Linked DNA regions of Homo sapiens. The protein of the gene in region 3 interacts with the protein of the main gene of each other region in a biochemical or structural test. Each region holds a gene or a part of one and is shown on either strand. Other genes may lie near its edges.

The links.
Region 1: the proteins of HSF1 (region 3) and FILIP1 form a complex in vitro, tested with the Homo sapiens proteins (one study listed by BioGRID).
Region 2: the proteins of HSF1 (region 3) and MINK1 form a complex in vitro, tested with the Homo sapiens proteins (one study listed by IntAct).

Annotation. Positions count from the first base shown.
Region 1 is NC_000006.12:75,491,701-75,495,300, forward strand, and holds the start of FILIP1 (filamin-A-interacting protein 1), read right to left. Parts: upstream 2,101-3,600; 5' UTR 1,714-2,100; intron 1-1,713. UniProt on the Homo sapiens protein: By acting through a filamin-A/F-actin axis, it controls the start of neocortical cell migration from the ventricular zone. May be able to induce the degradation of filamin-A.
Region 2 is NC_000017.11:4,836,162-4,839,890, forward strand, and holds part of MINK1 (misshapen-like kinase 1), read left to right. Parts: intron 1-3,729. UniProt on the Homo sapiens protein: Serine/threonine kinase which acts as a negative regulator of Ras-related Rap2-mediated signal transduction to control neuronal structure and AMPA receptor trafficking.
Region 3 is NC_000008.11:144,298,089-144,301,817, reverse strand, and holds part of HSF1 (heat shock factor protein 1), read right to left. Parts: intron 1-3,729. UniProt on the Homo sapiens protein: Functions as a stress-inducible and DNA-binding transcription factor that plays a central role in the transcriptional activation of the heat shock response (HSR), leading to the expression of a large class of molecular chaperones, heat shock proteins (HSPs), that protect cells from cellular insult damage.

The DNA.
Region 1 (3,600 bases), on a different chromosome or scaffold from region 3:
AGAGCCTGATTGTTCATATAGTGGAGGAAACCGTGTTGTTTAGCCTGAGCTGAATTGCTGTTGATTCTCAAGAATAAATGTACAACAATGAAGACAATTAATGATACTGAAAAATTCACTTCATCAGCAAACATGACTTTTACACAGGGCCAAATGCTGCACTTAGTTATCGCCACACTGTCCCACTGACTCCAAAAGAAATTACATGCCTAGAATCAATGGTAGATTTTGGCCTTACACATACATTTTTAAGTCAACAATGTGACCCTTCTTAGGATAAAAACAAGAAAAATGTAAAGCATTTAGTTCTGACTTTTCAAACTCCTTCAAGACAAAGATATTTCATCTCTACTAAAGCACCAGGAGTTTCAGTCTCTAATAGTAAACTTACCAGAGTGCATTTTGCACTATTATTTATACATATTTGTATATGTGATTCGCTTATGTACTGTATAAACAAGTAAACAGAATTATAAAACATAACACATACTGAAATGAGTGCCCTATTTCATTTTCCTGAGCATATGCTATATAAGCTTTAATTAGCTTTTCTTAAAAGAAGATCATTTTCTGAAAAGGTTGATACATTCTTATTTGTCAACAAATAATATGTTAAAAACTGGTTTTGGGTAAATTCTTTCTTTACATTGATAGAATAGACTTTAAAAATTCCAATTAAAATGTGCTTCTATATCTTCTTTGATATTATCCTTAGACTAAAAAATTATTCAAATCATCATATTCATTTAGAGGTAAAATATTTTTATGGAAATCTACCCCAATTACAAACCACCAGATGTCAATACTAACTATATCAACAATGTACAACCATAAGTTGTCATATTCAACATGAAATTGGTTACTATAAGCAATTCTGATAAAATTGCATGGCAACTCATGGAAGGGGAGACAAGATGCCATCAGCTGAAAGGAGGATTTCCTTTACACTATAGTAAACACATTCATACACACACACATGCAACTTAACAGAAAATGTTTTCTAATTAAGTTTTTAAAAATAGAATCTGTTATATCTAAATACAAGTATTGATTTATTTTTTAAAAGTACACAAATATCATTATCTTGAGTAGTTATATTCAACAACTTCAAGAGTAGTGATTTAATACCAGGCATATTTTATGCCCAGTCAGAAGCATTTGGGGTGACTCTAGTGTAACGAGGTCAGAACCAGCACAAGGTGTACCAGTGTAATCAGAGAATTAGGCAAAAGGAGACACATGCAACAGCAGGTTTAAAAAGTACAGCAATACAAACACCATGCGGGACTTTCCTCTCATTTACCAAACACAAGCTGCTTAGCTAGTTTCAGTAAATGAAAGTTATTTTACTTCTAGGGGAGATATCCTTTTCATTGCTTAGCCATCCCAATTGTGAAAGGAGATGTGAAATTGTCCTTTGTCATAGTTCTGTTACCTGCCGAAGAGCACTAACTTGGGAGAAATATTTTGATGTCTACTAAAACACCATAAAATTATGTGTTTAAAAAGGAATTGGTATAATTTTGAGGAAGAGATGATGTTTCTGACTTTTTAAAAATAATTCACAATGGTTATCGTAACTTCTAAATGTGTTATCACATCATAGAACAGGAAGAATCAAAGGAAACAGACAAAACAGAATGGGAGAGAACTCTCTTCTTGTGGAAACAGATATTTCTTAAGAGAGTAAGTATTTATTTATTTTGGTCTTACCTGACGGCAGCTCCTTTAACCAAAGGTATGTCCTCTATGTAGGTAGTTTATCCTTTGAAGAACCCAGTGGCTTGTCTCACAGCCCAAGACAGATTCGAGTTCTCAAAAACTATCCAGCCCAAAAGAATACAGAGGAAAAAGCTTTTCCCACTTTCTTTCCCAGGACCAGCCAATAGCTGAAGTCATGCAGGAAACAGAGTAGAGAGGAGGGAAAGCAGCTTCTTCTCCCTGAAATCCCGATCAGCAGAAATTGGAAGTTGTTGTATATCTCCCACCCAGACTTTTGTTTAAAAGTTTTTTCTACTGTTGCTAGGTGTTGTTGGGTTCGGAGATTAGGTTTCTCCTCTTCTGCTCCCTTCACAACACTGTCAGAGCAATGGCTATGTTGAGGAGCTGAGCTCGCGGGTGCTATATTTAACCAGTGTTCTCAGCAAGTCAAGCCTGTCAACAGCTGAGAAGTTTGGAGCCGGCTTTACTCAGTTCCTAAGCAGCTGGGTTATCAGTGGATACAGCGCTGCTCACCCTGTAAAAGATTGCGGGAAAACCGGCAGGCCCTTTTAAGGACTTCTGCTCATTTCACAGAGGTAATTATTGTTTGAAGCTCTTAACTACAGACTGAGATTTGGGACTTAGGTTTTAAAATGTGAAGAGAAACAGAGCAGCAGTTGTCTTAGGCAGAGCAATTTACTAATGCAATATTCTTCTCGATTAGGCTCTCTCAGATAAATGTTCTGAAATAAAAAATGCTTTTTAAAAGTGTATCACTTCTGCATAAATGGAGGTCTTAAAAAAGTGTATCACAACTGTTGGTTGTGAAAATGAGTACAAGATCACTTCCAAACAGCTTTTGACACTGGTGTGTTTCATTTATAGCTAGATCACTTACCTAGTCATATCAAACTTTTGTCCAGCTATGTACCTGAATGTTATTAAAATAATATTACCATAAAGGAATGTCTATAACATTATGATTTTGAAAGGAGTAACATTAAGAAGGAAAATCTTAGCATCCTCACTCAGGTCATTCATTCAAAGTAACACACGGTAAACACTCCAGGAAATCCAGGACATGAGATACCTCTGGTTGTTGACAGGCTTGCCTCATCATTAACCCTCAAGTCTCTACAACATGAAGAATGTCTCAAGATACTTTATGTGCTTCATCCTACATAACAAAACGGTATGAATCTGCCGAGATTGAAACTTTTTAGAAATTGTTTAATTAACTAGTTTTGGGGACCGTTTTACTAATTACATATGTGAAATTAACACTAAGGGAAACTGAAGGAGGTCCTCTTGGCCACAGGTAAAGTAGGAAGGGAGACACACACACCACACACATATACACACACACACAGAGAGAGAGAGAGAGAGAAACATTATTGATTAACAAACTAGAATATGGCCCTGACAAAAATCTCACCAATACCATTATAAAGGTTGACCCTCTTCCTGAGATCAATTTATCAGATTAAAGATACCCTCTTTTTGACATGCAAACTGAAGATGAACCAAGGGCATATGTAAAGGTGTGGATGTAATATTTTAAGAGTTGCATACTTGCAGTAAGTAGCTTATGTGCTGGGTAACCCTATGTCTCTGAGAAAGTCTGCCACTTCAATCAGGAGTGTGTGTATGTCCTTCTTTTTAAAGAAATGACCCTCACCTGCTCAAGCCATTCAAAAACATCTCAGTTCTTCTCATTCCAAATACCACACTGACAGCATGCACCCTGCCCCTTTAATGTATTTACTACCATACACATGTAAAATTGCATTTGCTCAGACTCAGTCTTTCTGAGTCTGAGCCAACCATGATTTAAAAAAAAAAAAAAAGAGACTTCTATTAAGATGAAAGAGCTCTCATGTGAAATTAACTGACTCTTCT
Region 2 (3,729 bases), on a different chromosome or scaffold from region 3:
CTTTACTACACCATCTTGTGTTGGGGGCTGGGGAGAGGGATGGGAGAGGAACATATTCAGTATTTATTTGCTGGCCTTAAGGAGCCCAAGGTGTATTTCTCCTCTTGTTTCAAGATAAGGCTTGGTTTTCAGCTGGTGATGAGGGTAATCGTCTGATATTAGGGAAGATTGAATTGCGTTAATCTCTTAGCCATGTGTGGGGAGGCCAGATGGACCTGCTACTTTGTAGCCACAGCCACACTTGACCTCTTTGAGGTTCCTTTTCTCCACCAGCCTGGCTGCAGCGTGGTGAGGAAAAGCATGTGGTTTGAAGTTGCAGCCCTGAGTTCAAGTCCTAGTTTCTTCCCTTACAATGTAACCCTGGCCCTGCTCCCCTTACTGCAGATTCTGCCAAGAGCCTTACCCTCTCTAAGCTTCATTCAGTCCTGTATCGTGGGCATGGTAATAGTACTGAATGCAGAGTTGCTGAGGATTAAATGCACGTTAAGTACATAGTACAGTTCCCAGCACACAGTGATCATATATGTGATAGCCCTTTTTGCAGTTATTTTTATCAAATGGCAATCAGAGAAGCCTTCCAGGACAACTTTATCTAAAATAGCACTCCCTCCTCTGCTTTATTTTTATACAAAATTTTATATAGCATTCCCTTAGTCTGCTTTATCCTTCCTCATAGTATTTATCACCAGCTGACATATATATTCCTGTCAGCCCCACTAAAATGTCAGTTCAGTGGCCGGGTGTGGTAGCTCACGACCGTAATCCCAGCACTTTGGGAGGCCGAGGCAGATGGATCACCTGAGAGGTCAGAAGTTCGAGACCAGCCTGGCCAACATGGTAAAACCCCATCTCTACTAAAAAAAAAATACAAAAAAATTAGCCAGGCATGGTGGCGCACACCTGTAATCCCAGTTACTCGGGAGGCTGAGGCAGGAGAATCACTTGAACCTTGGAGGTGGAGGCTGCAGTGAGCCAAGATTGCACCACTGCACTCCAGCTTGGGCGACAAAGCCAGACTCTGTTTCAAACAACAACAACAACTACAACAAACAGTTCGGTGAAAGCTAAGATTTTGGCTGTTTTGTTCATTTTTGTATCCCCAGTGCCTGTAAGCATGTTTTGCACATAATGGGGGCTCAAACGTTTGTTGCAGAAGTGCCTCTTACAACACGTGCCACTTACAACACAGTGCAGTGCTTGCTTAGAGAAAGTATTCAATAAACCCCAGGCTTCTTAGGCTTCATTTTGCCCCTCTTTTATTTATGCACAATTAAGAATATATTTTTTCTGGGATGTTTTTAGAATCAGACCTTGTCTGGGGTAAACAGTTCTGGAAGCCTCCAGCTGAGCGATGCCCTTGAAGTAAAGTTAGGATCATCCAAGAGAAAATGTGGGCCTCTGTGTCTAAGCTTGGTTATATTCCAGGAGAACCTTCTGACTTGGAACTCTTGGCTTCTCACAAAGGATAAATATCAGTGGAAGTGGATGGGACAAGGAGGGGGCAGGCCCCGGCCTGACCTCTTTCCTTTTGCATTGCTCCTTTTGGTTGACCCACTTCGTAAATCAAACAGCTTCTTTTTACCATCCAGCTCGAAGTTTGACTGCAGTGTCCTTGAAACTGTGGAGCTATGCTTAGCGTCGCTGGATTGAAATCATAGCATGGAGCACATTCAAGGAGGACTTGTTGCTCGGTGGTAGCTGCTGACAGAGATGTTCTTTTTCAAATGATTTTGTGTTGTTGTGTCTGTTCTTTGGATAAGTGTCTTCGCCTTCCTCCTCTCTTCATGCGGCTGTGGAGCCAGCACCACTCGGAAAGCTGGCAGTTCTGGGCATGTATTTCTAGGCTGCTGAGCAACGTGGGACTGCCTCTGTGTTCTGATGTGCTAGCTGTCCAAATGTTGATGACAGATGCCTTAGGCAGGAGAATGGGAAGAGTGACCTCCTGCTGCAGAAGTAAGGACATTCAATAGTGACTTTTTTCCCCTGGAAAATTGCAAAAGGGGAATGGGGCTGTTTGGAGAGCTCGAGGCATTTAGATGAAGTGAAATGCTGCCTTGGCAAAATGACGGAAGGAAGATTACTGAGAACTTGGCTGAAACTAGGTGATCAGTCATTCCCCAAACAGAGGGAGAGACATCCCCACCCTTTATGCTATGGGATAGGACAGTTTGCCATAGTCCTTAGGGATATACACAGCAGGGAGGTTTTGACAGTTAAGATAACAGTAAGGTCAGCAAGAGAGCCAGCTGGCCCACCCCCTCACTCTTGCCCCAGGAGCTCAATTAAAACTCTGCTGGGTAGAATCCTGACTTCACATCTGGCCTCCATTCCTTTCCGCATTGAACTGTGTGCCTAAGACAGGGTAGCACACACAACTTGCACATGTAAACCATCTTTGTTTGTCATTTAGGGGACATGATGGCAGGAAGTGTGCAGCCGCTCTTGATAAGCTTGTATTCTGGTGTAGGTCTGTAGATAAGGCATGCAGTAACCTCTCAACCCAGAAACATAAAGCAATTCTGGACTGGAGAACATCTCCAGAAGCCGGTGAGAGTCTGCCTGTCTAATATTTCTGTCTCCAGACAAAGTTGAATCAGAGAAAGTTATCAATAATCCCCTGTCCTCCACCAGTCAGTCGCCAAGCATTGGCAGTCTATGTATTGAGAATCAGGTTCCAGATTCTATGGAAAGGATGTAATATAGTACTCAGTCCTCTACTAAGCTATTTAACCAGATCTCTGGGGACATCCACCCAAGCAAAGCAATGCCTTTCCAAGCCTAGACTCTTTTTTTTTTTTTTGAGACGCAGTCTCGCACTGTCGCCCAGGCTGGAGTGCAGTGGCGCGATCTTGGCTCACTGCAAGCTCCACCTCCCAGGTTCACGCCATTCTCCTGCTTCAGCCTCCCGAGTAGCTGGGACTATAGGCGCCCGCCACAATGCCTGGCTAATTTTTTGTATTTTTAGTAGAGACGGGGTTTCACCGTGTTAGCCAGGATGGTCTTGATCTCCTGACCTTGTAATCTGCCCGCCTCAGCCTCCCAAAGTGCTGGGATTACAGGCGCGAGCCACCGTGCCCGGCCTAGACTCTTTTTCTTAACTGTTACTGTTTTCCTCAATATCCTGCAACCTTCAAGGTTGGGACATTTTTGTTAAACCTGATTTCCATGAATTACACTCATTTTCTGTGGTCAGTGGGCAGTCATCTTGAAACCTGGTCTTCAGCCCCACTCCCTTCGACACCTACTTTTTACTACTATCTGTCTCAGTCTTCTCTTTCCTGGATTGAAGACAGAACAAAAGTGATCAGGTTAATAAGTCAACTCTCAAAGCATTTCTTGAATTCACACAGAGTATAGTAAGATACAAAAACGTGACTTGGTAGAAGACTTGGATCCTGTCCACAGCTCACGGCCATTTGCTCTCTCCAGTTCTTTTGCCATTCTCCTCCGAACCAACCAGTCCTTGACTTGAGACTGGGCTTCTCTTATCTATAGGAAGCTCTTCTAGGGGGTAATGGAAAAAGGGTTTTGAGGCTCTTTGTTCTTACTAAGGGCGGGAATAGTAAAGGGAGGAGAGAAAAGAGGGATGGAATTGTAGTGACCCAAGAGAGCCCCTGGAGATTTTGTCCAGTGGCTAGACAGCCTGAGGTTGTACGTGCTACGTGTGGGTAGGATTTTGTGTTCTGTTTGAGGAAAGATCTAGAACTAGGCACAGAGGACACAGTGGTG
Region 3 (3,729 bases):
TCTCGGCTCACTGCAAGCTCTGCCTCCCGGGTTCACGCCATTCTCCTGCCTCAGCCTCCCGAGTAGCTAGGACTACAGGCACCCGCCACCACGCCCGGCTAATTTTTGTATTTTCAATAGAGACGGGGTTTCACTGTATTAGCCAGGATGGTCTCGACCTCCTGACCTGGTGATCCGCCCGCCTTGGCCTCCCAAAGTGCTGGGATTACAGGCGTGAGCCACCGCGCCCGGCCTCTTCTGGAGCTTTTAAGATTTTCTCTTCACCAGCCTGTTCCAGCACTTTGATTATATAATGTACCTTGATATGGTTTTGGTTTTATCCTGCTTAAGACTGATATTCTTGGATTTGTGAGCTTACAGCTTTTCAAAAATTTGGGAAAAATTTTGGCCATAATTTTTTTTTTGAGACAGGGCTCTGTTGCCCAGGCTGGAGTGCAGTGGTACGATCATGGCTCACTGCAGCCTCCACCTCCTGCACTCAGGTGATCCTCCCGCCTCAGCCTCCCGAGTAGTTGGGACCACAGGCAGGCACTACCACGCCCGGCTAATTTTTGTATTATTTATAGAGACAGGGTCTTGCTATGTTGCCCAGGCTGGTCTTGAACTCCTGGGCTCAAGCGATCCACCCATGTCAGCCTCCCAGAGTGCTGGGATTTCGGGCAGGAGCCACCGTGTCCAGCCTTTTGGTCATATTTCTGTATTCTCTTCCCCACTGTTTTCTGGAACCTCAAATACGTTAGACCACATGATATTATGTCCTTGAAGCTCGGCTAAGTTTTTGCAGTCCTTTTTCTCCCTGTACATCACTGTGGACAGTTTCCATTGCTTTTAGTTCAGGAATCTTTTCTTCTGAAGTTTCTAATGTTTTGTTAAACCGCTCCGGTGACTCTGAAGAACCACCTTTTTACTTTAGAATACATGCCCTACACCAGTGTCCCCCATCATTAACATCCTGCCTTTGTGTGGTACAGTTGTCTCAAGAACATTAGACACATTGTTAACTAGGACCCACATTCTAATCAGATTCCTTAGCTTTTTACCCAATCCTTCCTCTGCTCCAGGACATCATCCAAAATCCATCCAGTTGTCACATCTTCTTCAGTCCCACTGACTCTGGCACCTTTCAGACTTGCCTAGTTTTTGAGAACCTTGACAATTTTGAGGACTCGTCAAACAGTTTGTGGAATGTCTCTCAATTTGGATTTGTTTGATGTTTTTTCATCATTAGCTGGGGTTACGTATGTTTTTGGGAGGAAGATCAAAGAGGTAGAGTGCTGTTCTCATCATCCTATCAAGAGTACACAACAGGCCGGGCGCGGTGGCTGACGCGCCCAACACTTTGGGAGGCCAAGGTGGGCGGATCACGAGGTCAGGAGATTGAGACCATCCTGGCTAACACGGTGAAACCCCATCTCTACTAAAAATACAACAAAATTAGCCGGGCGAGGTGGCGGGTGCCTGTAGTCCCAGCTTCGTGGGAGGCTGAGGCAGGAGAATTGCTTGGACCTGGGAGGTGGAGGTTGCAGTGAGCCGAGATTGTGCCACTGCACTCCAGCCTGGCAACAGAGCGAGACTCCGTCTCAAAAAAAAAAAAAAAAAAAAAAAGAGTACACAACAGTGATACGCATGTCACTGCTGATGGTGAGCATGGTCCCTGGTGAGGCTGTGTTGCTGGAGGTCTCCACTGGAAAGCTGCTCCTCCTGCTTCTGTGCTCTGCTCTTTGGAAGAGGGTCACTAGGTAAAGCCCAGGCTTCTGGAGTGAGGAGTTAAGCATCACCTCCTCGAAGGGGAACTATCTCAGTAAACAATGTGGAATTCTTCTACTTGGGAGATTAGTTCCAGTGACATTTTGTCCAACTTGCTTCTTTTCTGTATCTTCCATTTCTCAGTCATGTTTTCTTATTTTTTGAGACGGGGTCTCGCTCTGTCACCCAGGCTGGAGTGCAGTGGCACGATCTTGGCTCACTGCAAGCTCCACCTCCCGGGTCCAAGCAATTCTCCTGCCTCAGCCTCTGGAGGAGCTGGGACTACAGGTGCCCGCCACCACGCCCGGCTAATTTTTTGTATTTTTAGTAGAGACGGGGTTTCACCATGTTAGCCAGGATGGTCTTGATCTCCTGACCTCGTGATCCACCCGCCTCGGCCTCCCAGAGTGCTGGGATTACAGGTGTGAGCCACCACGCCCAGCCCTCAGTCACATTTTTGTGTTATTTCTTTGAGCACAGGGAACATTTTTATAATTGTTTACTGTCTTTGTTGGCTAATCCTATCAAAACTGGGCCTGCTACTGGACCCCCTCCAGTGACAAGTCCATTTTTCTGCTTTGGCTTGTCTGCCCATGACTGATTAGATTCTGGACGTGAATTTTTTTTTTTTTTTTTAGAAGGAGTCTTGCTCTGTTGCCCAGGCTGAAGTGCAGTGATGCGATCTCGGCTCACTGCAACCTCTGCCTCCCGGGCTCATGTGGTTCTCTTGCCTCAGCCTCCCAAGTAGCTGGGACCACAGGCGCCCATCACCACACATGGCTAATTTTTTGTAGTAGAGACGGCGTTTCACCATATTGGCCAGGCTGGTCTTGAACTCCTGACCTCAGATAATCCGCCTGCTTCGGCCTCCCAAAGTGCTGGGATTACAGGTGTGAGCCACTTCGCCTGGCTTCCTTCTCTCAAGAGTGCTGTGTGTACTCCGTGCTAGCAGGCAGTGGTGTTTCCAGGGCTTGCCTTGCACTTGTTTCCACGGCATTGGAGTGGCCTTTCCTCTGCAGCTTATTCTGCGCCACTTCCAAGCTGTGTTTCCTCTAAGGTGTCATGAAAGCTCCTTGTATTTAAAGTGGCTTCTATACTCTGGCTGGTGGGAACTGAAATAACCACGGCCCTGTGTGAGTCCTGCTCATCTGTCCCCTTACACTTACTCTTCCCCTTCAAGTTGCTCTTGGTCCAGCTCCACGAGGTTTCACTGTGTGCACCAGCAAATCGGATCCAACCCAAGATGCAAGCGGGCTCACGCGCAGATTGCTGGAGCTCTTTGTTTTGGGCGTAACTCCTTCCTTTCTGGTACCACACCCCACACATTCTAGCTGCCTCAGCTGCCCCAAAGTCTGGGTTTGTTGGGTTCTCTGCACGTGAGTCTGCAAATTCCCTCCACATAAAAAGCCTGGACAATTTTGTGGTTTACCTCAGTCCTCGCCGGTTTTTTCTTTTCTTTCTTTTTTTTTTTTTGAGACAGTTTCTCGCTCTGTGGCTGGAGCGCAGCGGCGCAATCTCGGCTCACTGCAACCTCTGTATCCCAGGTTCAAGTGATTCTCCTGCCTCAGCCTCCCGAGTAGCTGGGATTACAGGCACGCACCACCACGCCTGGCTATTTTTTTTTTTTTTGTATTTTTAGTAGAGACGGGGTTTCACCATGTTGGTCAGGCTGGTCTTGAACTGCTGACCTCAGGTGATCCAACCGCCTCAGCCTCCCGAAGTGCTGGGATTACAGCCGTGAGCCACCGTGCCCGGCCCTAGTTTTGTAACGTCTGAACATTTTCAGCGGCTTCTTATGCCTTAAGGGTTAAATCCAAGTTGAACATGTCAGGCAACCCCTACCTTAGGGGCCATTATGAATTTCACAGGGTCTGCTGGTGAACCCATCAGAGAACCCAGTGTCTCTCTCATCTTCCTGCCTCAGTGGAACAAGGTCCCTCCTCTGCTGACCACAGGCACCTCTTGGAGGAGTCACCGGTCATA